7 linked regions of the Homo sapiens genome follow. The protein of the gene in region 2 purifies or fractionates together with the protein of the main gene of each other region. This does not show direct contact. Each region holds a gene or a part of one and is shown on either strand. Other genes may lie near its edges. The genes, in order: IFT122, IARS2, GAK, GRSF1, ASPM, STAT2 and IL22RA2.

The links.
Region 1: the proteins of IARS2 (region 2) and IFT122 purify together in Homo sapiens (affinity purification with mass spectrometry; one large-scale study listed by BioGRID and IntAct). This does not show direct contact.
Region 3: the proteins of IARS2 (region 2) and GAK purify together in Homo sapiens (affinity purification with mass spectrometry; 2 studies listed by BioGRID and IntAct, with this or other methods). This does not show direct contact.
Region 4: the proteins of IARS2 (region 2) and GRSF1 fractionate together in Homo sapiens (co-fractionation; one large-scale study listed by BioGRID). This does not show direct contact.
Region 5: the proteins of IARS2 (region 2) and ASPM purify together in Homo sapiens (affinity purification with mass spectrometry; 2 studies listed by BioGRID and IntAct, with this or other methods). This does not show direct contact.
Region 6: the proteins of IARS2 (region 2) and STAT2 purify together in Homo sapiens (affinity purification with mass spectrometry; 2 studies listed by BioGRID and IntAct, with this or other methods). This does not show direct contact.
Region 7: the proteins of IARS2 (region 2) and IL22RA2 purify together in Homo sapiens (co-immunoprecipitation; one large-scale study listed by IntAct). This does not show direct contact.

Annotation. Positions count from the first base shown.
Region 1 is NC_000003.12:129,474,724-129,478,223, reverse strand, and holds part of IFT122 (intraflagellar transport protein 122 homolog), read right to left. Parts: intron 1,910-3,500; coding exon 1,718-1,909; intron 1,562-1,717; coding exon 1,423-1,561; intron 209-1,422; coding exon 6-208; intron 1-5. UniProt on the Homo sapiens protein: As a component of the IFT complex A (IFT-A), a complex required for retrograde ciliary transport and entry into cilia of G protein-coupled receptors (GPCRs), it is required in ciliogenesis and ciliary protein trafficking.
Region 2 is NC_000001.11:220,135,632-220,139,131, reverse strand, and holds part of IARS2 (isoleucine--tRNA ligase, mitochondrial precursor), read right to left. Parts: intron 2,324-3,500; coding exon 2,221-2,323; intron 1,969-2,220; exon of another isoform or gene 1,866-1,968; intron 1,215-1,865; coding exon 1,089-1,214; intron 125-1,088; coding exon 1-124.
Region 3 is NC_000004.12:922,317-925,816, forward strand, and holds part of GAK (cyclin-G-associated kinase), read right to left. Parts: intron 1-3,500. UniProt on the Homo sapiens protein: Associates with cyclin G and CDK5. Seems to act as an auxilin homolog that is involved in the uncoating of clathrin-coated vesicles by Hsc70 in non-neuronal cells. Expression oscillates slightly during the cell cycle, peaking at G1.
Region 4 is NC_000004.12:70,815,891-70,819,390, forward strand, and holds part of GRSF1 (G-rich sequence factor 1), read right to left. Parts: 3' UTR 1-3,500. UniProt on the Homo sapiens protein: Regulator of post-transcriptional mitochondrial gene expression, required for assembly of the mitochondrial ribosome and for recruitment of mRNA and lncRNA. Binds RNAs containing the 14 base G-rich element.
Region 5 is NC_000001.11:197,094,670-197,098,169, forward strand, and holds part of ASPM (abnormal spindle-like microcephaly-associated protein), read right to left. Parts: intron 1,496-3,500; coding exon 1,329-1,495; intron 1-1,328. UniProt on the Homo sapiens protein: Involved in mitotic spindle regulation and coordination of mitotic processes.
Region 6 is NC_000012.12:56,353,608-56,357,107, forward strand, and holds part of STAT2 (signal transducer and activator of transcription 2), read right to left. Parts: intron 2,972-3,500; 5' UTR 2,965-2,971; coding exon 2,834-2,964; intron 2,679-2,833; coding exon 2,525-2,678; intron 2,197-2,524; coding exon 2,101-2,196; intron 1,926-2,100; coding exon 1,836-1,925; intron 1,745-1,835; coding exon 1,669-1,744; intron 1,257-1,668; coding exon 1,171-1,256; intron 1,008-1,170; coding exon 859-1,007; intron 1-858. UniProt on the Homo sapiens protein: Signal transducer and activator of transcription that mediates signaling by type I interferons (IFN-alpha and IFN-beta).
Region 7 is NC_000006.12:137,170,845-137,174,799, forward strand, and holds the start of IL22RA2 (interleukin-22 receptor subunit alpha-2 isoform 1 precursor), read right to left. Parts: upstream 2,801-3,955; 5' UTR 2,569-2,800; intron 1-2,568. UniProt on the Homo sapiens protein: Isoform 2 is a receptor for IL22. Binds to IL22, prevents interaction with the functional IL-22R complex and blocks the activity of IL22 (in vitro). May play an important role as an IL22 antagonist in the regulation of inflammatory responses.

The sequences.
Region 1 (3,500 bases), on a different chromosome or scaffold from region 2:
CCCACCTGGCACAGGATGATGTGATTGGCACACACCACCAGGAGGTTGCACTCAAACTTCTTGATAATCTTCTCCTTTACCCGGTAATGCATGTCTGATAAGTCCTCTGAATACAACTCATAGATGAGGATTTTCTCTGGCAGTTGGATAGCCAATCGATTTCTGTAGATGGCAATCTTCTTGACAAGCTCTTTGCATTTAATCCGAACTGTCAAAGAAAAAAATATCTAGTTCTAGCAAGAGGTTGTTATGTAAGGTGCAAGGCAGAGAAATTAAAAGCCATCATTTACTTAGCGCTACTGGCAATTAAAGTGAGATACTCTCATTGAAAAATCTTTAGAGTATCTAATACATACAATCAACTCTGCTGAACCCTGGGATCCAAAGTCCTATAGGACACAATCTTCATGGTCCAAGGCTGACAACTGAGTATGGAAATAAACTACTCACTGTTACCATCACTTGCTGGATACAAATATAAACTCCTCTGCACAGCACTAGTGGCCCCCGGTGATCAGAAGCCTGCCTAAGTAACTGACCTCACCTCTGGCCGCTCCCTGCCCACCTCCTTGACAAACGGGGAAGACATGTAATTTCTGGTACACACCAGGCTCTACACTCCCACTACAGACCAGGTGGAGAAAATGTCCCTAAGGGGGACACTGTGAAGCTGCCCAAGGGGCTTTGCCCCAACCACCACAGCCAGAATCTTCAAAAAGATAGGGTCCCCCAGGGGGACCAAAGGACACTCATCTGAATCTACAAGACAACCCCCAACCTGGATCCCTTGCAAAGGCACCTAGCAGTGCACTAAGGCCAGCACATCCAGATATGAATACACCTGAAGTAAGTGGATTGAGTCTATTTAACCAGCACAGCAACTTAAGTGGACAGAGGGAGAGACTGCAGTCTTAGGGCTTAGAATGACTATGCGAGGCCGGGAACTCTGATCTTCTGACCTAGCCTGTGCCAATCCAATTCCACTGCTCATCTCTGGCAGAAGGACCCACCAGGAGGCAAGTGGAGACAGGGCTGAGGGAGAAGCACCCCAGAGTGACTCTGACCAGAAAGGATAAAGGTCCACGAAGACCCATGCAGGTCAACCACCTGGCTCCAACCTGTCATAAATCATCCTCCCTCACTAAGGAAATTCATGTACTCCTTGAAATTATGTGCAAAATTCTGAGTTGGTACATTTTTCAGAGAGGATTTATTGCTTTCATGAGATCCTCAAGGAGACTGGCATCCCTACTTCCCCCACCAAAAAAAAAAAAAAAAGAAAACAAGACACAGACCCAGTGGCTAACAGGTTTGCAAAACGCCAAAGAGAAACCTTTTCCTGTCATTTCAAGTGCCCTGTCACCAGCCCTTTCCACCTGCTTCCACCTGTCCCTCTTCCCAAGGTCTGGACCTGCCTCTTACCTTTCTGCTCAGTGATCAGGTGCTGCACAATGACGTCAGTCATGCTATCCCTGTAGGCATAGCGGTCCTTGTAAAGCCCATGGACTGTGCTGAAAATAAGCTGGTAGAAGGAAATGGTGCCGTCCTGGCAGCCGACCACCTGCGGGGTGAGAGAACTGTCAATTCCCAGCTCTCTGGAGAAAGTCTGCATTCCCCCATTTGTCAGACACAAACCCCAGTGATGTGACTCGAGACACGGCGGCTGCTCAGTGCCTCTTCAAGCCATGGCCCCACAGAACAAACTTTCTCTTCTTACCACATAGTTGGAATCCGGTTTCGCTTGACACGTCCACACCCAGGAGTTCTGCTCCCCAACAGTCCCAAGCCGCACTCCATCCTTGGTGAAAAGAGATACTTGCTTGTCTGAACCCCCCAGCAAAATGTACTCGCCTTTAGTAAAGTAGCTGATGCAGCAGGGGTCAAAGTTCAGTGCCCGATCCTTTCCAATCTGAGGAAAAAGAACACACAGCAAGGGAAAAACCATTTCCGAATCCATAACCATTGCAATACAATTAAGGGCTTTTTCTCGCCAACTTTAGAGGGAGTTGGGAAGACAGGGAGAGCTGGCCAGCCTTTTCTCCTGTGTCATCCCATGGTGAACACAGGCCTCTCTGCCTCTGCATCTCCCTACTCATCCTCTACACAGCCCAAACCTCAGCTCCTGGAGTCAGTGGCACCTCCCCTAGTCCCACCCAAGTGCTCCAGGAGTGCAGGAGTGTGTCAGGGCTCCTCCGCCAAGATGGAGACTGTGGGTGGTTTTGTTCCCAAAGGCCCCCCTCCCTCTGCAAATATAGTTCTTCCTATAGTTCAATGGGTTCCCTCAGCTTCTTTTCTCCGCCTTTTTAAAAAAGTATTTTATAAAGCTGAGTTTATTCAGTTTAAAGACTGTCCTTTATTCTGCAACTACACCCATACTACTTCTCTTCATTTTTTAATTCTTGTTTATTTCAAGATGGGGTCTCACTCTGTCACCCAGGCTGGAGTGCAGTGGTGCAATTACGGCTCACTGCAGCCTTCAACTCCTGGACTCAAGCGATCTTCCTGCCTCAGCCTCCTAAGTAGCTGGGACCATAGGTGAGTGCCACCATGCCTGGCAAAAAATTTTTTTTTTGAAAAAGGGTCTGACTCTGTTGCCCAGGCTGGAGTGCAGTGGCGCCATCTTGGCTTACTGCAACCTCCACTTCCCAGCTTCACGTGATCCTCCTACCTCAGCCTCCCAAGTAGCTGGGACTACAGATGTGTGAGAACACGCCTGGCTAATTTTTGTATTTTTTGCAGAGACGGTGTTTCTCCTTGTTGTCCCGGCTAGTCTCAAACTCCTGAGCTCAGATGATCCACCCACCTTGGCCTCCCAAAGTGCTGGGATTACAGGAGTGAGTCATAGCTCCTGGCCTATATTTTTTTATTTTTAAACTCTACGTTGAACCTTTTTTAGGAACTGCTACACTTTTCAAGTGAATGCACCACTTTATATTTGCATTAGCAGTGTATGAGGATTCCAATTTCTCCATTTTAGTGAGTGCGAATTATCTCATTGTGGTTTCAATTTGCATTTTCCTGATGGCTAATGATATGGAGCATCATTTCATGTGCTTATTGGCCACAGAGAAATGTCACACTCTGTGGCTTAGGCTGGAATGCAGTCGTATGATCATAACTCAATGCAACCTTGAACTTCTGGGCTCAATTCCTCTGCCTCAGCCCCTCACCACCCCCAGTAGCTGGGACTAGAGGCATATACCACCACACTCAGCTAATTAAAAATATATTTTTTTAGAGGTGGGGTCCCACTGTTACCCAGGTTGGTCCTGAACTCCTGTTCTCAAGTGATCTCCCTGTCTCTGCCTCCCAAAGCACTGGGATTACACGTGTGAACCACCATGCCCAGCCCTGTCTTTATAGCTCTTTATATATTCCAGATACAAGTCCTTTATCAGATATATGAGTTGTAAAACTTCTCTCATTCTGTGGGTTGTCTTTTCTCTTTCTTGATGGTGCTTCCTCAGCTTCTAGGATGCAGGTCAAACTCCCGAGCTCAG
Region 2 (3,500 bases):
CCAAATCCTGCAGTAAGTGTAGCATGTACTGGTCTATGACATACATATCGTTTACAGGGATGGAATCTGTTTCTGGGTTGAAATCAGCCACATTTCCCAAAAGAAAGCGAAGTGTATTCCTAAGCTATTCATAGGAAGAAAAAATATGCAGTTAAAAAAATCTAATGGTGCCTTCAATTTTCACTGAAAAGTTATTTTATTACTAACTCTTGTCATTTTCTTAGTGGGGTATTTTTATTATCATTCCAAATAAGACTACAAATGTAAAAAAATAAAAAACAAAAAGTACACAACAAACTCTTATTCCAATAGCCCAGTTATAGGAACAACCACTGGATTTTACGCCTAACGACTGAATTTTCATTATATTTCTTTATTACGTTGGGGCAAATCACCTTTCAGTAGCCCAGTTTATTCATGTGTGTGGGTCAGAATAATGTTATTTCACTTGCTTCACAATGAAATAAAGATACATGGAAAAATGTGAAAGGTTATTGAGTACATAAAAGTATACAAAATTAATATAATCTATACTATGCTATATTACATTTTATATATTAATAAAATATAAAGGATATTATATACAAATTATATAAAATTACTGGTATTACTACCAATGTTTTGAAACAAATAAATTTACACAGGAGTTTTTTGTTTTTTTTGAGACAAGGTCTTGCTCTGTCGCCAGGCTGGAGTCCAGTGGCGCGATCTCGGCTCACTGCAACCTCCGCCTCCTGCGTTCAAGTGATTCTCCTGCCTCAGCCTCCCGAACAGCTGGGACTACAGGTGCATGCCACCATGCCCAGCTAATTTTTGTATTTTTAGTAGAGACAGGGTTTCACTATGTTGGCCAGGCTAGTCTCGAACTCCTGACCTCGTGATCCACCTGCCTCTGCCTCCAAAAGTGCTGGGATTACAGGCATGAGCCACCATGCCTGGCCAACACAGGAGATTCTTAAAATCTCACAATAAATGAAGAACTCGTTTTCATTCAGTTTTTTTCAGTTCCAAACAAAATGTGTCTCATTTTTTAAAACAATGATTTGACAAACTTGTCCTTTAGAAATAGGAAGAATAATAGTTCTAACCTTGCTAATATCATCTCTGGCAGCATTGAGCACGGATGGGCCAATTGCAACTTCGGTGAAGACATTGGAATCAGCTACCCACCAGCGAAGGACATCAGCACCATACGGAGGCTCTTTGCTTTGATCCTTTTCATTGAGAAAAAAATATATAAACACAATGGCTTTCAATTCCAATTAGCCGAACAAATGTTTTAGGTAAAGCTCCTATTCAGATATTTTTGAGCACAATGTAAGTACAAACTATACTAGCACTGTAATGAAATGCGGGCTAACAATCTCAAATTAGACTGTATCTAAAAACAAAACTGGAAAAAGAAAGAGCGTGCTCTGCAATCTTGTTCAATGCACAAATGCTCATACCTAATCTCTTCCCTGGTCATGTCTGTTTCCTCTATTACAGCTGGTGGTTAGACACACAGCAGTGCCAGGGAGGTCTCTATAATAAGGGAGGGGAAGAGGAAGGACTGCTTTTCCTTTCACTATTTCCTAGCAACTCTGTACACAAAACAATGAACGGTTACAGGATGTTAGGCGGGCAGTAAAAAGCTACAGGAGTTAAAAAATAGAAAAAAACAGACAAATGATTTAATTCACAAAAGCAGCTCCAAAAACCCCCCCAAATTATCAGCAACCTCAGATTTGATGTACATTTAGGACCTGCTTTAAAGTGTATAATTTTCAACAATATAATAATGAAATGCGCATTTTGAAGTTGCAATCTCATTTTTCATCATTTCCATTTAACTACACAATCACACTTTACATATTCTTTTTTCACTTCAGACAGCAATGTGCCAACACTGTAACAAGGTTTGAGGGAGGCACACCTCACACAATAGTGCGAAAACCCAATCATCACGCTTACGAATCACAAAAGGATCTACACATTTTAAAGGCTCTCAGACAATTAAAAAAGAAACAGCGTGGTTTGGGACCTAACTGGAGAGTCAGGCCTGAAATAAGTTAAAAGGACCACAATCCCAGCCTCTGCCTTCTTCATTACAATCATGTGTTATTTGAGAGTATAAAAGATAGTTTTTATTTTTACATTGAAGTAACTATATTAAGGGCTTTGGCTGCCAATTTAAGATCCTTAAAACGAAAATAAAATACATTTTAGAGAATCACCTACTTGTCCTCCATTAACGACAACATCAGGATGAATGACATTCCCAAGAGACTTGGACATCTTTTCTCCCTTTTCTCCAAGGGTAAATCCATGAACAATCACTGTCCTAAAGGGACAAATCAGCTATTTTAATGATAAACACAATTATAATTATCTTTTTGAAGATTAGGTACAGCTTAAAAAGAGTATCTAAGTTTGACACAAAAATATGATTTTTCTTGACTGATTATGAATAAAACCTTTTCTTTTCTTTTCTTCTCTTTTTTTTTTTTTTTTTTTTGAGATGGAGTCTCACTCTTGTTGCCCAGGCTGCAGTGCAGTGGCATGATGTCGGCTCACTGCAACCTCTGCCTTCCAGGTTCAAGGGATTCTCCTACCTACGCCTGACCTCAGGGGATCCACCTAACTCGGCCTCCCAAAGTGCTGGAATTACAGGTATGAGCCACCCTGCCCGGCCGAAACCTTTCCTTAAAAGTCAAATTCGGCTGGGTGCAGTGGCTCACGCCTGTAATCCCAACACTCTGGGAGGCCAAGGCAGGCAGATCACTTGAGGCCAGGAGCTCGAGGCCAGCCTGGCCAACATGGTGAAACCCTGTCTCCACTAAAAATACAAAAATTAGCTGGGTATAGTGGTGTGTGCCAGTAGTCCCAGATACTTGGGAGGCTGAGGCATGAGAATCACTTGAACCCAAGAGGCGGAGATTGCAGTGAGCTGAGATCGTTCCACTGCACTCCAGCCTGGGAGACAGAGTAAGACTCCATCTCAAACAAAAAAAGTCATTCTTAGCTCATGTATCACAATAGTCAAACAGTTAACTCTCGACTTACACAAAGGAAAACTTTAGATATTTTCATCACTAAACAGATTATTTTCTGAGCTTCTGCTATGTACTGATTTTATCATTAAAACTAACCAGGTTAGAAAGAGCAAACTACAGAGACAGCAAGGAGATCAGTGGTTGCCAGGGGCCCTGGGGTGGGAGTGGAGATTAGTCACAAATGGGCATGAGAAAACTTTTTAGTGTGTTGGAAATGTTATAAAACCTCTTGTGGTGATAGCGGAAAAACTATATAACTCACTAAAAAAAAAAAAAAAAAAAAATTTTAAATGAAAAAATAAAACCAGGAAAAAGTATGTCTTAAAAAGAGCAGATTATCATCTCAAAATTATTTTCAAAAGACAATTTGAAAAAAATAGGATCTGCCCTTTTACTGGTCTTTAAAACGCATGTTAAGAAACAAAAACATGTAAAAGGGCCAGGCGTGGGGGCTCACGCCTGTAA
Region 3 (3,500 bases), on a different chromosome or scaffold from region 2:
CCAACCTGGGAAACATGGTGAAACCCCGTCTCTACTAAAAATACAAAAATCAGCGGCGCATGGTGGTGGGCGCCTGTAGTCCCAGCTACTCAGGAAACTGAGGCAAGAGAACTGCTTGAACCCAGGAGGCAGAGGTTGCAGTGAGCTGAGATTGCGCCACTGCACTCCAGTCTGGGTGACAGAGCGAGACTCCATCTCAAAAAAAAAAAAAAAAAAAAGGCAGCATCTGCAAACCAGCAAAAGAGGCCTCTCCTGGAATCAGCACTGACAGCATCTTGCTCTTGGCCTTCAAGCCTCCAGAACTGCGAGAGTGAATTTCTACTGCTCCCCACTCAGTCTGGAGTATTTTGTTATGGCAGCCTAACCAGGCTGATACGCTCCTACATTGCTGGTGGGAATGTATGGCCACTCAAGAAAACAATCTGGCAGTTTTCTAACAAACTAAACACATAATTACCACACATGAACCAGCAACTGCACTCTTAAACATTTATCCCAGAAATGAAAACGTATATTCACACAAAAACCTATACGCAAGTGTCACAGCAGCTTTATCTGTAGTAGCCAAAACAGGAAACAGCCCAGATGTCCTTCCACGGGTGGCTGGCTGGGCAAGCCGTGCACACTCACGCAGAGGAGTCTCACCACGGGAAACAAGCTACTGACACACAATTACCTGAAGAATTCTGCACTTCCCCTTACACTGCATCCTTCGAATGACAAAATCACAGACAGAGCAAAGACTAGAGGTTTCCAGAGGGTAAGGAAATGGCGTGGCTGAGAGGTGGCATGAGGGCTCCCTACGGGGATGGAGACTTCCACAGCCTCACCTGCACCAGGGTTAGCATCCCGACCGTCACCACTGGGGAAACCAGGCAAGGGTCTAAAATAGAAAAGATCTCCATCTTTTCTCACAGCCGCGTGGGAACCTACAATGAACTCAAAATAATACAGTTTATTTAAAAATAATAGTAACGTATAAGACATTAAAGAATGGCATGTCGGGTACCTCCAAGACCCTGTTATATACATTTTACAGCACACACTCTGCCAATTAAGGAACAGGCACAGGCCAGGCACAGTGGCTGACACCTGCAATCCCAGCACTTTGGGAGGCCGAGGTGGGAGAATCACTTGAGCCCAGGAGTTCTGAGAACAGCCTACAGGCAACATAACAAGACTCCATCTCTACCAGAAATAAATTAAAAATTAGCCAGGCGTGGTGGTGCGTGCCTGTGGTCCCAGCTACCTGGGAGGCTGAGGTGGGAGGATCGCTTGAGTCCGGGAGTTCAAGACTGTGGTGAGCTGTGATCATGCCACTGCACTCCAGCCTGGGCAACAAAGCAAGACCTCATCTCAAGGGCAGGGAGTGGAGGGGTGGGGAGTGGAGGCACAGAGACATCAAATGCTCAAGCCAGGTCAAATCTCAAGGCCCAGGTTCCCTGAGGCAGCCTGGCCTGGGACAGCAGAGTGACCACAGCTAAGGCTTGCCTTCTCTTTCTCACATAAATTATATAAATATATAAACATAAGACCTGTATCCAGAGTAAGCAGAAACTCCCTGCCCAATAAAAAATGGACAAAAAGGCCAGGCGCCGTGGCTCATGCCTGTAATCCCAGCACTTTGGGAGGCCAAGGCCGGCGGGTGACCTGAGGTCAGGAGTTTGAGACCAGCCTGACCAACATAGTGACACCCCATTTCTACTAAAAAATACAAAATTAGCTGGGCATGGTGGTGCATGCCTTTAATCCCAGCTAGTTGGGAGGCTGAGGCAGGAGAATTGTTTGAACCTGGGAGGTGGAGCTTGCCGTGAGCCAAGATGGAGCCACTGCACTCCAGCCTGGGCAAGACTCCCTCTCAAAAAAAAAAAAAAAAAAAAATTGCTGAACATCATCATCAGGGAAATTCCAATGAAATCACAATGAGATCGACACCACTGCACACTCACAAGAATGGATGTAATCAAAATGAGAGACCACAAGAAATGCTGGTGAGGAAGTGGAGAGCCAGGAACTCTCCACTGCAGCTGGTGGAAATGTAAAATGGTGCAGCTACCGTGGAAGGAGGTTTGGTTGTTTCATGTGAAGTTCAACCTAAATCCAACCTGTAAATCAGCAATCCTACTCCTTGGTATTTTTTACCCAAGACAAAGAAAAACACACGTCCACAAAAAGACTTGAAAAAAAATGTTCTCGGCACCTTTATTCATAACAGCGGATACGGTTTGGATCTTTATTCATAACAGCGGACACGGTTTGGATCTTTATTCATAACAGCACATACGGTTTGGATCTGCGTCCCCATGCAAATCTCATGTTCACTTGTGACCCTCAATGTTGGAGGAGGGGCCTGGTGGGAGGTGACCGGATTATGGGGCGGAGTTCCCCATGGCGTGGCTGCTCTCAGGATAGTGAGATCTGACTGGGCCATGGGTGTGGAGTTCCTCCCGGGGCTGCTCTCAGGATAGTGAGTGCTCTCCTGTGAGATCTGATTGGGTCGTGGGGGTGGAGTTCCCCCGGGGGGCTGCTCTCAGGATAGTGAGTGCTCTCCTGTGAGATCTGATTGGGTTGTGGTGGTGGAGTTCCCCCAGGGGCTGCTCTCAGGATAGTGAGTGCTCTCCTGTGAGATCTGATTGGGTCATGGGGGTGGAGTTCTGCCCGGGGGCTGCTCTCAGGAGGAGGTTGCCAGGATCTGAGATCACACCCCTGTACTACAGCCTGGGCAACACAACAAGACTCTATCTCAAAAAAATAAGAATAAAAAAATAACAGGCACAGGATATGAATGTGCAATGCCAGAAGGGGAGGCTGAGCAGCAAATAAGCATTACCAAACTCGCTACTCAGAAAGGCACAAATCAAAGCTTGACACTTTTTAAACCCATCAAAATGTCCAAATAAAACAAACCCCCAGGGGACACTCTGAGGACTTGGGACACTAGAGTCTGGTGCCCCCGAGCAGCCTGCAGGCCCCATGAGCAGAGCTGGGCAACCTTCCCCCACACAGCCCACCAGCGTCCATGCAAAGGGCTGAGGACACCTCTCACCAGGATGCGTGTAGGATGCACGGAGCACGCTGGGGACGGGACAGAGTGCCGGGGGACAGTGAGGTCAGTACAGGACCACTACAGGCAGATCTGAGTATCTTTTTTAATCAACTCGGCCTCTTTTAAGAAACAGACACTTTTCTAACGTAAAATACCACATACCAACATTTTCAATACACACATAATTCACAACACTACAGAATGAATCTGTGTCCCCTCCAAAATTCCTGTGTGAAATCCTAATACCCAAGGTGATGGTGTTAGGAGGTGGGGCCTCCTTGGGGGTGACTAGGCCATGAAGGTGGAGCCCTCAGGACTGGGATTACTGCCCCAGAGAGCACTCCCTCACCCCTTCTGCCCTGTGAGGACACAGCGAGAAGGTGCTGGACCTCACCAGACACCAGATCTGCCGGCGCCTTGCGCCTGGACTTCCAGCCTGCAGAGCCGTGAGGAA
Region 4 (3,500 bases), on a different chromosome or scaffold from region 2:
CATACATAGAACACTGCTCAGCCATAAAAAGGAACAAAGCTTAAACACACTGATGAACATACAAACATGCTGAGTAAAAGGAACTTACAGAATACATACTGCATAAGTGAGTCCGTTATATGAAGTTCTAGAATAGGCAAAATTAATCTACAGTGAACAAAATCCTAACAGTAGCTGACTGCCAGGGGAGGGAAGAAGGGACAGGAGAGAGAGGTGCAGGAATTGACTAGGTGAAAAAATTCAGATGTAATACAGATGTTCCAGACATAGGGGTTTGAGTTACATGCTTTTACATCAAAACTCATCAAATGAGTCTGGGTATGGTGGCTCACACCTGTAATCCCAGCTACTCGGGAGGCTGAGGCAGGAGACTCCCTTGAACCCAGGAGGTGGAGGTTGCAGTGAGCCAAGACCAGGCCACTGCACTCTAGCCTGGGCGATACAAGACTCCATCTCAAAAAAAAAAAAAAAAAAAGAAAAAACCTCATCAAATGATACACTTAACATTTATTCACCTTACTGCAAATCTCCCTCAAAAAAACTCCAATGACGGCTGGGTGTGGTGGCTGATGCCTGTAATCCCAGCACTTTGGGAGGCCGAGGCAGGCAAATGACTGGAGGCCAGGAGTTCCAGACCAGCCTGGCCAACATGATGAAACCCCATCTCTACTAAAAATACAAAAATTAGTCAGGCGTGGTGGTGCACATCTGTAATCCCAGCTACTCGGGAATCTGAGGCATGAGAATTGCTTGAAACTGGGAGGTGGAGGCTGTAATGAGCTGGGATCACGTCACTATAACTCCAGCCTGGGTGACAGAGCGACTGTCTCAAACACAAAAAACAAAAACAAAAACAAATTCCCATGACATGTATGCTGAAAGGATTAAAAGTGAAAAATGTCTACAACTTACTTGGACATGCATATAGAAAAAAAGATGAGACTGCAGGAGGCAGGCTATGGGATAAAGCATGGCAAAATGCTGCTTGTACAATCTAAGGGATGGGTATTGGCATCACCAAGATTTTATATACTGACAGAAAATGATCTTTAGGGTGTTTAGGTGGGAGAAAAGCCAAAATACAAAATAGCATGTACAGTATAATTTATATTTTTAAAAGAAATGACAACACCCACTAACACTTGCTTATAAATAAAGTAAAAGTCACTGCAAGCTTACACTAGAAACTGATAACAGGGCTGTGCGAGAATAGAAACTAAACAGCTGAATTACAGGAGGGGAAGGAGAATCTTCACTACCGTTTGTATCTCTTCAAGTTTATTTCCTTCAAAAAATAAAATATAAACAACTTTAAAATGAGCCTGCTTTTTTTTTTTCTGAGACAGGGTCTCACTCTGTCACTCAGGCTGGAGTGCAGCAACAGTCATGGCTCACTGCAGGCTTGACTTCCCAGGCTCAAGCAGTCCTCCCACTTCAGCCTCACAAAGTGCGGGGATTACAGATGTCAGCCACCACACCTAGCCTATTCTTGATTTTCATATAATCAGGCTTAAGACAGATTAAACCTTCCTTCCTATACTTCCTTTCTAAAAATAAGAAAACCACTAGAACTAAAATTCTGGACAGAAAATCCAGACACCTCACCAATGATGATATAAGGATGGCAGATTAAGTATATGAAAAGGTGCTCCACATCACTATGGGATTGGGAATTAAAACGATGAGACCACTATTCACCCATTAGCTAAAATGCAAGAGTGACATCACCAAATACTAATGAGGGTGAGGAGCTACAGGAACTCTTATTCATTGTCAATGGGAATTCAAAATAGTCATGTTGGAACAGTTTGGCAGTTTCTTCCAAAACTAAACATACTCTTAACTTACAATCCAGCAACCTGGTTCCTTGGTATTTACCCAAAGGAGCTGAAAACGAGTCTACACAAAAACCTGCACATAAATGTTTATAGCAGCTTTATTCCCTTCCTACAAACTTCAGATTCTCTTCTAATTTGCTGAACTTGGGGAGTGGGAGGGTAATGTATTTCTAATGCGATAGCGCAATTTGGATTGGAACTCTACTGCTGACATACATACCATTCTCCTCTATACTATAGGTCCTACCAATTCAATGTGAGTGTCTTCCGATAATTTAGGGGAAACTCTCAGAACAATGGAGTTTTTTGTATTTTGGTTTTTTTGATTTTGACAGAGTCTCACTCTGTTGCCCAGGCTGGAGTGCAATGGTGTGATCTTGGCTCGCTACAACCTCTGCCTCCCAGGTTCAAGCGATTCTCCTGCCTTGGCCTCCCAAGTAACTGGGATTACAGGCGTGTGCCACACCTGGCTAATTTTTGCATTTTCAGTAGAGCCGGAGTTTCACTAAGTTGGCCAGGCTAATCTTGAACTCCTGACCTCAAGTGACCCACCATGGAGGGTTTTAAATTCTGAAACAAACAGGATGTAACCCCAAAAAATAACTTTCCAAATGAGAACTGAGTAAGGGCTGTTCAGGGCAGAGGACATTAACAAGGCATGTTGATTAATAAGCAGATTCATGGCACACAATGTTGCCTTCAAACTGGGTTCCTTATGCTTCCCCCTTCAAGTAACACAGAAGTAGTGAGAATTTGGAGCCTTCCTCCCAGGGAAGATTCGGTCCCCCTTCCCACATGACAGAAGCTTAAGTTACCCACGCATAAAGGGACACATACTCTATTTCTGCTTCATTGCCTGGTGTCAATATTTAGATGAGACCACAATATTCAGATGAGACCACAATATTCAGCAATCAGCTCCCTGGTATTTACATACTGCTTCTCAGAGTTCTCCCTTGCACTCCGTAAGCAGCAGCTAGGCTAAAGCAGGATATGAGCACCCTGACCATATGCCCCACTCCCACTATTCTTCCTGATGGCTTTACCACAAAGGAAGTTATAGACACAAGGAACCCAAACAGAAGGAAATTCACCATCACTGCTTCCTTCAATAGCAAAGAGTGATGCAAAACAGTCTTCTCAAATGTGGGGAGACGGTACCGTCTTCCACTTGCATGGAAATAAGATTACTTTTACTGTATTATGTGCTTCTCTTCCTTTCCCATAACTACATCCACCTTAGCAATCACTTACGTACTAGCCTAGATCATGAACAAAAACAAAAGGGAGCATTCAAATACATAAAATGATTTCCCAATAATGGCCACATTTTGTACAGAAAACTCAGCCTGTAGCGTGCCAAGAAGATATATCCTTTCAACCTTACCCATCCATCATATAGCATTTTAATGCTTTGCTTGCATTCTTTTTCCAGAGATGTGCAAATAAAACTCATTAGCTTAAATCAATTGCAGATGAATTCCTCACAGTAGGCCCCACAGATCTTTTCCACAGCAAATCAGATACCAAATGTGAAAGAGCAACAAAGATCACATTCTAATAGTTCGTACAACTACAGATACCAGTTCTCATAGCTTGGCATATTCAACCATATATGAAAACGCATTTCCATCTAGGCAGTACTACTGATGATGTTAAGCT
Region 5 (3,500 bases), about 23 Mb from region 2:
TTCGTAAACAGAACTGGAGAAAAATTTTAAAAAATCTGAGCACTAGAGATTAAATTTTAGGGATCAACATAATACTAAGAGATAAAATGTGAGAATGGACAGGTTTTCTACTCTGTTCTTGATAATGTGGAAAAAGTACAATGAGTAGCTTGTTTTGTTGCCATGTTTCTTAGAAAATAGGACCAAACACCATTGAGAAAAATTCAGCATCTGTTACAGGAAAATTAGATACTGGTCCTTAATAGCTGATAGTAGCAACTGTATCTTTATATGCTTTTTAATTTTTATTTTTATGGATATATAATAGTTGTAAATATTTACAGAGTACATGTGATATTTTGATTCAAGCACACAATGAGTAATGATCAAATCAGGGTAAATGGGATATCCATCACCTCGAACATTTATCATTTCCTTCTATTAGGAAACTTCTAATTCTATTCCTCTAGTTATTTTGAAATATACAATAAATTATTGTTAACTATAGTTGCCCTATTGTGCTACTAAACAGTAAATCTTATTCCTTCTCACTGTATTTTTGTACCCATTAACCAGCCTGTCGTTATCCACCCCTCCCCTCTCCCTATCCTAGCCTCTGGTAACCAACATTCTACTTCTATCTTCATGCGATCAACTGTATATGTTAAGCCCTGCTTCTACCCATGGGCTTCATCCAAAAATTCCTCTCACACTAGTGTGCCTTCCTAAACCATCTTTAAAACCATCATTGATTCAATAATTCATCAACTCTGGGAGCTGAAGAAAAATTCTTATACTATGAACTTAAAAAAAGATGATCTGGTAACAGCTTCTGAAAATGTGTGTGTGAGAAATAAGCTAGGAATAGTGAAATACAATTAGCATAGACAGGTTGGTAATTAGGGTCTTCATCATTAATGACAAAGAGTATGAGGAATAATACAAAGTTCAAAGAAAAAAAGAATGAGTAAGAAAACAAATTTTGCCAGTAGTTAAGTCACCCAGCAAAATGGCCCAAAGCACTAATAAGAAAACCAAGTCTTAACTAAATGATTTTATTCACTTCCTACGTCTCTGTCCTTACTCTAATCCTTATGAACCTGAATTAATCAAGTATATAATATTTTTAGATTATATTAATTAAAGGCTATGCTCTATCTCAAAAAAGCAAGACAGTACGAGAGATGTATTTTGTTTCCTTAATAAAGAAAATATCAACAAAACCAACCATATAAATTAAGCATAACAAATATTTAAAATAAAAATCAATAAGCAGTGTTATTTTATGTAAAGACTTAGCTATCACACACAAATACTTTTACACTCTCCACAGAACTATGATACATTACCGTGTTCTCTCTAGTTTGGTATAGAAGCAACCTTGAATAATTTTAACAGCTTTTAATATAGCTAGATATTCTTTGTGTGCTCTCCAACATCTATACCAGGCTTGAATCTTGCAGGCAGCTTTCACTTTACATAAATATTTCTTGGCTCTATATCTCCTCCACATAGCCTATTAAATACATAAATATAACAAGTATGCAATGAGTTGTCTCTTTTTTTTTGTAAATAAGACAAATCAGTATAAAGACAGTTAAAATAAGGTTAGTGCAGACAAAAATAAATTGCATAGTCATATCATGACTCTTTTAGACTTTGACATGTAATGAGTCTTCTGAGAACAGTGGTGCTTACTATAGTGAACACGTATTATGTGCTTTATCACACATACCTTATGGCTGGCTGCCAGCCCAGCCTAACAAAACCCTAACCAGTATTTATAAATTGTAAGACACACATGTCTGAAAAGCCCCACATTATGTAAATTATCCTCATCACCTCAATCCATTTGGAAGAAAAGAAAATGAACACATTGACCTACTGCAGGTTCTGGGGAGAAAGAGGAATTCTTCCCAATCCATATTCACTTTGGGTTCTGTGTTCAGCCTGCAGGAGAATCCTGAGAGCTCCTGTGATAGGACTGTCAGACTTTCTGATTTTGACAACCTTCTGGAAGACTAAAGGTTTACATGACAGCTACAACTTATTGAACTAAGCACTAAGAAGATTAGTCCTTAATAATCACATGGGTAGATAATACTATTATCTCTAATTTAGAGATGAGGAAATCAAGGCCTAGAGAAATTGAGTAACTTGTTGATGTCACACAGGTTAATAAGTGGCAGAGTTGTCTTACTTAATATTTATAAATATCTTATAAAATGGTTAAGATCTCTGTTTTATAAAAAAGGAAAAAAATCCAAAATTGAAATTAAGAAGGACTTGTTAGCATATAGCTGTTAAGTGACAGAGTCAAGATTTGAACCCAAGTCTATTTGACTCCAACATCCCTACAGGAAGAGGAATTAAAAGAAATTAAAGACTGTGTAAGCAAAAACTCAGTTGTATGTAAGAAAACCCAATTCCCCTTGGGAAGAGAAAGGGCTGGAGTCCTTTAAAATTAACTGTGTTTTTCTCTCTGTGGCTAGTGAGCCTTATCTCTCCCTTTCCCAGGCATTGTGAAGACTGTTTCTCTAGCTGTGCAGCTGCAAGGACACTAGACAGATAATCTCAAGTTGTAAAACATGTTGTTCCTTAAAAAGTAAGAAATAATGTAATGCATCTCTTACTTGAATAACTGTCTTTGTTTCTCTCTTCTGTAATACGCTTCCCCCTGCACAGATCTCCCCATGCCCCACGAAATGCTTAAAAGGTAGCTTGACTCTTTGTTCAGGGCTCAGTCCTCTTTGGATGTTAATCCGACTGGGTCGGTGCACATAAATAATTAAATAATTCCTCCTCAAATCCCTCGGTCTCTCTGATTCCTTAATTATCCCGCAGCACAACAAATACTATAGGCACAACGTATATTTAGATTAGGTTCTAAATTCAGTTGATAATGCAATAATTATATATGGCCAAAATTACTCTGAGATGACCTTAACTCATTCAGACTATATTGTATACGGTTTTTATGTAAATCTGCATACATTATTTATGTATATCCCCAATACCTGCCACCTCAGTCTTAATCAGTGGTAGAAGAATGGTCTCAGAACTGTTTGTTTCAATTGGCCATTTAACTGTAACAGTAAAAGACTGGTTAATGGTAACACTGCATCATAAAACCTTCAGGAGGAAAGGAGAATGTTTTGTGGACCATTTTGGTGTTTTTGTTTTTGTTTTGCTTGTGGCAGTTATAAGTTACTAGTTTTTAAAATCAGTACTTTTTAATGAAAACAAATTGACCGAAAATCTGTCACAGAATTTTGAGACCCATTAAAACAAAGTTTTAATGAGAAAATTATATATATGTATAGATATACGTGTGTGTATATATATATTTACAAATATATATATATATACACACACACACATCACACCTGAAGAACATCAAAATTTACAGACATTGACAAGAGAAGCCAACATAGCGTTAAGAGGGAAAGAAGACAGCTAAGAGATTATGGTATCAAGAAACCAAGGGTTGAGAGAAGAAACAAAGTGTGCTTAAATCCCAA
Region 6 (3,500 bases), on a different chromosome or scaffold from region 2:
TAAATAGCTGAAAATAGGAGTTCATTAATTAAATTATGTTACCACCATATAGGGGACTGTTGTGTGGACATAAGAAATAACATGGATAAATATAATATACTGTTGGCCGGGCATGGTGGCTCACGCCTGTAATCCCAGCACTTTGGGAGCCCAAGTTGGGTGGATCACCTGAAGTCAGGAGTTTGAGACCAGCCTGGCCAACATGGAGAAACATCGTCTCTACTAAAAATACAAAAAAACTAGCCAGGCATGGTGGTGTGTGCCTGTAATCCCAGCAACTCGGGAGGCTGAGACAGGAGAATTGCTTGAACCTGGGAGTTGGAAGTTGCAGTGAGCTGAGATCGTGCCACTGCGCTCCAGCCTGGGCAACAGAGAGAGACTCCGTCTCAAAAAAAAAAAAAAAAAAAAAATATATATATATATATATATATATAAAAAATACTGTTAAGCTTAAAAAAAACCCCATGGATTTCAAAATAGTATGGACAATATGATTCCATTTTTGTTTAATAAGCTAGGTAATAGGTAATTTTCTCTTCCTCCTTCCTTCCTTCCTTTCTTGTCATTGTATTCGTTGCAGTAAAAAAAAAAATACATATATATATATTTCTGGGTGATTAAAAAAGAAGGAAAAACCAGATTGTGGGTTAATTCATTCCTTTCCCTGAAGGAGACTGGGCTCTGGGCTCCCTGCGTGGTGAGGATGAGGAGCAGAATAGAGCTGCAGTCAGCAGGGAGCAGGGCTCATTCTGGGGAGCAGAGACAAATAGAGAACAGTATCTCTTGCTATATGCAGGGCACTGCAACTTACAAATCACAGCGCATGGCGAGGACGAGGGTTGGGGTGGTACCTCTCACCATGTCTCCAGCTGTTCCAACCCGTGGTCAATGGGAGCTCTGATGCAGGCTTTTTGCTGCTGGGCCTTCCACTCCTCCAACTTTGGCAGCAGTAGCTCGATTAGGGTAGTTAATCGGCCTAGCAGTGCTTTGGAGGCATCCAGCACCTCCTGGGAAAGAGATAATGTGAGTGTTGAGCATCTCTCCCTTTCACCCTCCACCACCCAACTGGGGATGAAGAAACAAAGAAGCCAGCGCTAGAGGACCAGGGTCCCCACATCCCTCATTTTTCCAGGTCCTTGTTGCCCACATGTTCTGTCCTCTGTCTCCCACCTTTCTCCTTTTGTCCAGTTCATTGAGAGTTTCCTGCAGAATCTTCTGCTCTTTGGTCTGATGGGGGTCCAGAGAGGGTGTCTTCCCTGGATGGTGGGAACAGGAGTCAGTCCAGGGGTTCTTTCCTCTCCTTCCTGACTGGGGTCTCAGTCAGAGTCAGGAAGGAGGAATTTTGTGGAGGAAGAAAGGGAAACCAAGCAAAGCACAGGCACCTGTGGGACCCTCAGGCAAATTCTGAATGGTCATGCTTGGACCAGACACCCCCTCAAATAAAACACTGTTAGTTTTCCATGCATTTCCTCAACATTTACTGTCTCTCAGCTGCACCTCCAGCTCAGCCTCCACAAAGCACTTCCAGCTTTGCACGGCAGCAGGACTGTAGTCAGTGGGGTGTGTCTGACAGTGACTACTGCTCATCGGAGCTTTCTCCTGTTCACTTCCAGCTCCGGCTTCTCAGCAGGCACTTATCTTTCTCCAGCCCCTCAATGTGCTTCCTACCTTTGGCCTGGATCTTATATCGGAAGCAGAAGACATCCTGCTGGTCTTTCAGTTGGCTGATGGATTTTACCAGCTTCTGCAGAGGGGAGAGGACCCCGATGAGGCTGCTTCTCAGGGAGGTGTTAGGCTGAACGCTGTCAACCCTAACTCCTACCACATCTACTAACCTCCATCATAGCCCTTAAATCCAGGATCCGGGATTCAATCTCATGTTGCTGGCTCTCCACAGGTGTTTCGAGAACTGGCTCTCCTTGTTCCTGAAAAAAGAGGCTCTGAGCACGTTTTAACTCTGGCCTTTCATGCCTTAAGTTCAGGCCTGAAATTATACCACAGGATGTCGGGGGGATCCTGTTCTGAGACAACTCCCTGAGTCCTTTCCATGGTTCCTCTCTACTTCAGGAGTTTCCAACATTACCACTGAATTGTCCTCACCAATTGGGCCCTCTGAGCCTGGATCAAAATTCTTTTTTCTTCCAGAAGGAGGTTAAAGATCATCTCAGCCAACTGGGTAGGATCCTGGGAAAAGGGCTAGAATAGGTAAACAGAAAGGATTGATCCAATTCAACCACTCTCAATGACCTATTGCCCTAGACCCTCCCCACCAATGTCCACAGTATTTCCTCCTCCTTCGGGGTTCTTAGCCCTTTGTCTTTTCACCATAGCATCCTCCCAACAGTGTCACGTATATGCAACCCTTCTCTCTGCTAGTGATTCCCCAAGTCCAGACTCTGTCCTCCTTTCCCCACATTTGTTCCCGTCTCCCTTTCCACCTCCAGGTACTATTCTATTCTCCAAACCTTACTCCTCTATGCTCAGCTCCCAGTGCTACCCCATCACTCCCAACCGTTCCAAGTACCTGAATGTCCCGGCAGAATTTCCGCAAATTGTGCTGCAGCAACAAGGACTCTGGGTCCTGGCTGCAACGGCCACACTCATAGTTCAGCTGATCCAAGAAGTGGAAGAATAGCATGGTAGCCTTGGAATCATCACTCCCAAGTGCAGCTTCCTGCCTGGGCACCAGGAATAAGAAGTATTAGTGTCTCTGCAGTGTTACTGTAGTCCTGAGGCTTTCCAACCCCTTCCTGCCATTAATGATTCCAGGATCCCGGGGGCCCAGAAGTAAGGAACCACCTTTTTCATTCCCCCAACTTCCTGAAGGCCTCACCAGTTCTGGTCTTCAATCCAGACAGCCAAGTACTGTCGAATGTCCACAGGCAGGAGGCTGTGCGAGTAAAGCTGGTGCAGCTGATCCTGAAAGGGGCTGTCAAGATTCTGCAGCATTTCCCACTGCGCCATTTGGGCTCTGCGTCAGAAGGATGAGGGTTCCCAATTGGATATTTTGCTGGACTAAATCATCCATAGTTTCATGATTGTTCATTATTACTAATTTAAAATGTTTAAATTATACAAGTAATAAAAATACAGAAAACATTAAAATATATGTTGATCCTACTGCTAATCTTGGTTCTTTCCCCTCCTCTCCAGAAGTAACCACTGCTATCAGTTTGGTGCATATTCTTCCAGGGAGTGCTACCAGTTGAGTATCTGCTATTCCAAGCATTTTGGATTTCAGATTTGTCCAGATTTTGGAATATCTGCATTACTTACCAGTCGAGCATCCCTAATCCAAAACTCTGAAATCTGAAATGGTCCAAAATCTAACTTTTTGAGCACCCACATGACACTCAAAGGAAATGCTCACTGGAGCATTTTGGAGCCAAATTTTTCAGATTAGGAATGCCTAATCTGTATTTTTTTTTTTTTTTTTTTTTTTTTTTTAAGATGGACTCTCACTCTTTTGCCTGGGCCGGAGTGAAGTGGCATGATCTTGG
Region 7 (3,955 bases), on a different chromosome or scaffold from region 2:
ATGTGTTCTCATACAAGGAACAATCGATAAACTAGAAATCTTAGAAGCCTTCCTGAAAAAGGATTAATCAGAAGTCAACATGGCAGATTAGCATCTAAAAATGAAGTTGCTTCAGCCTCCGCAAGTCATAAAGGTTTTTTTGTTGTTGTTAAAAAGAGAGGCTCTTTAGATCAAAAGGGGAAATGTATACTGGTTTCTATTTTCTCTTGTATAGTCTCTTTCAAGTTCTTGGTAGAATAGCTCCTTTAGTAAGGAATAATGATGGCTGCTAAGCAGTATCCATCCATGCAGCTATCCAATAACATTTCACAAATATTTGCTGTCCTACCATAAACTAGGAATTAGTCTCAGCAGCAAGGATGCAGCAGCAGATAAGAGAGACATTGCCCCTGCCTTCCTTAAGCTTGCTTCTCAAGGGAAAAGTAGAGAATAAGGAGCTACAGCAGGGTTACAACTTCTATTCATCTAACCTTCTCTGTCTTTTTCTTCTCCTTCTTAAATGGGAGATGAAAAGTTTCAGAAGCCGGCTTGCAAAGCCACTTTGCCTCCCACCCTCCATCACAACCATTAACCAAGACTAGAATGTAGGAGGGGAAGCAGGTAAAATGAAAGTGCTAAAAGGAGAGGGTTGGGTGCTGCTGATGTGGAGGAGGCAGAGTCTTCAAAGAGAAAGGGAAGAATGGCCTTCTGCATACAGACAGGAGCAGAGGAGTTGTTCTCAAGTGTAGACCCTCCATCCCAACCCCATGACCCAGCACCTGTGAACATTTCTAGACACTCGGGTGCCTGAGACTGTGAGGCCTTGGGTGGAGCTGGGGCCACGCAGGGAAAACCTTATTCCTGAGCAAAGGGTCTTAGAAGAGAGCTTATCAGAAATTTCCTCAGAAACCAGATCCCAGTGGACCAGGCCACTATCAATTTTCATTTAACAAATTTCAGTTATTGGAGGGCAGTTGCGCTGCATGCTTTCTGAGGCCAGCCCTATGTGGAAAGGTTTGTGTGGATAACATCAGGTTTCCCAGTGCCTCTGTTCTACGGCAGTCTTCTGAATCCAGGCTTGTATCTCCTCCAGCTGAAGTTTTTGGTGCTTATAAGGTAGCTTCTGCTTTGAAAGAAGAAACATGCAGCACGTTTTATGTTCCCTTTTCACCTCTTCATGCTCCTTAGCTTGCAACCTTCTCAGCATTGTTATTCACTTCCCTGCTAATGTTTACCACTTCACATTTACTTTGGTATTTAAATGGGGGATGATAATGTGGGTTTGCACTATTGATGTTCAATGGCTTCAATACCAATAGATCTCATTTTGAAGCCACCAAATTGCTCCAAGTTCCAGCTAAGAATAAAAGGAAAATATTTAAATTCGAGGTTTTATGATGAGAGCAGCAGAGAACGAAATTGAGGTTTCCACTGGGTTGCTGACTTTGTCAAACAAATGAGGGGAAATTAGGCGGAGTGGGATAAGCAAAACATATTTAAGAACTGAATTCTCCCCAAAACGTGAGCTTTGGTGCTCTATTAAATTTCACAAACCAGACCAGTTCTGTCACTGTTCAATTAGCTCTAGTTGTGTAATAGAACCTGCATAAAAGCCAACACTGTCAACAAGGCCTCAAGGTAGATGAAAAGATAAAATTAAATTCTAATTTCCCATCAATCTGGAAGCAGAAGAATTTGTACAGAATTGTTTCAAATGAAATGCTGTTTTGTTTGGGAAGTAAGAAAGTTTTAGTCACTAGGGGATCTCCGCTCTGCCTCCTTTCAGGCATGAAATGCTGGCTTCATTCCCTGCCCTCCCCCGACCTCGGCCCCACTCCGCAGCAGGGAGAGTCCACCTTGACGGTGACAACGGGTATTTCCATCATCGTGTTGACTCTGGAGAGAACTTGCTTAAGCCCCTGTCTTGAACAGATTTGATTCTCTTCTTCCTTTCTTCTTGTGGCTTCCAGCAGACCAACCATTTATCTAATTAAGGAATCATTTTTCATTGTTTTTAGGTGTGATGTGGAATTTTGGTTATTATTTTTATTTTTTTTTAGAGCTACCTATTATAGTACTACAGATGAAATGGTGTCATGTCTGGGATTTGCTTCAAAATAATACAAAGGCCTGGGAAAGGGGGTTACCATCCATGAGCTGATAACTGTTGAAATTGGGTGTCAGGTTTATTATACTCTACTTTTGTATGTACTTAAAATTGTTCATAACAAAGAAAAAAGATTTTTAAAGTTTATCTACAAGATGTGGCCAGACACGGTGGCTCACACCTGTAATCTCAGCACTTTGGAAGGCGGAGGTGGGTGGATCATTTGAGGTGTGGAGTTCCAGACCAGCCTGGCCAACATGGTGCAACCCCGTCTGTACTAAAAATACAAAAATTAGCCAGGCGTGACGGTGTGTGCCTGTAATCCCAGCTACTCAGTGGGGCTGAGGCAGGAGAATTGCTTGAGTCAAGGAGGTGAGGTTTGCAGTGAGCCGAGATCGCGCCACTGCGCTCCAGTCTGGGCAGCGATAAAGCGAGAGTCCATCTCAAAAAAATAAATAAATAAATAAATAAAGTTTACTTACCAGATGCTGTCTTCCTTTTGGTAATTTTAATGCCATTTTAGTGTCAATAATAAGATCTAATAATTATGGGACGCCATGTTATGTTTTTCCCATATTTTGTCTTTGTTAATCCTCTTATGAAGTCTAGGAGATTGGTATTATTATTCATTTGATGTTACAGATGAAGAAACTGAGACATAGATAGAGAGGTGGAGAGAACTTGACCAGGGCTCTATAGCGAGTAGTGGTAAAGTGAGGGCTGAAATCAGATCTGGTTAGCCTCAGGGCCTGAGGAGTATTATGAAACTCCTCTTGTGTTATTCTTTGCTTGTAATAGACATTCCATAAAGGGATAGAATGATGTCAAAGAACATTTGTCCATTGGCTTCTCGAATCGTTTATTCAGTCAAACAAATGTTTATTGAGCAACTGTTATATGCCAGGCACTGTGTTAGACATCGGGGATGCAGAAATGAACAAGACTACAGAGCCAGCCCTCAGGGAACCAACAGCATTTTCTTCAACCAGGTCTTGGTAGCAAAGGGCTAAGTGTTTCTTATTGTTTTTCAGAGAAGTGTTTAAAAACTGGTGTTCAGTATGACTTTGGTGCTGTCCATTGAAGGGAAGTCAGAGCAACTGTGTTTCTGCTAGGCCCTTTCCTTCATCCTATGATTTGGTGGGCAGCTGAGCATCTTTTAAAAGTTTCATCATGAATGATAATCTGAACACCACCCTTCTCCCTCTCTGGAAAACTATAGAGCTGTAGAGCCAACAACAGGGAAACAACTTGTTCTTTCTTATTTGCTGGGACATTAATAGCTCCACCGAGTAATATTCATGTCCTTTAAGCAGTTCGGCATTCTGGAAATAATTGGCATGCAAAAATTCAAAATGGTTTGTGAACTTGAATTCAGAAAAGAAAAAGAAACATTGTTATTCAAACACAGGTGATAAGCACAATGACTAATCTGAGTTTTTGGACTGTGATCACTAATATATTATTTAAAATCTCCACTCATAGGACATAGGGCTTAATGAGGTTAACCTTTCCTGCTCTTCACTCTTATTTTTCTGGATAAAAGATGCTATTGATTTTGCTTTGATTATTCTTTAAAAAATTTTTTAAAATTTATTTCTGAAAACCAAAACATAAAGGAGTGGTAACATTTAAAAAATATGTATTTTTTTTATTTCAGTAGCTGTGCAATAGTGCAAGTGGTTTTTGGTTACCTGGATGGATTGCACAGTGGTGAAGTCTGAGATATTATTGCATCTCTTACCCGAGTAATGTACATTGTACCCAATATGTAGCTTTGATTATTCTTCACCCAAGGTCACCTTGAAACCCCTACCAGATATCATCAATCATTATGCCCATGCACCAGTATGTTTGTATGTATTGTTTGAT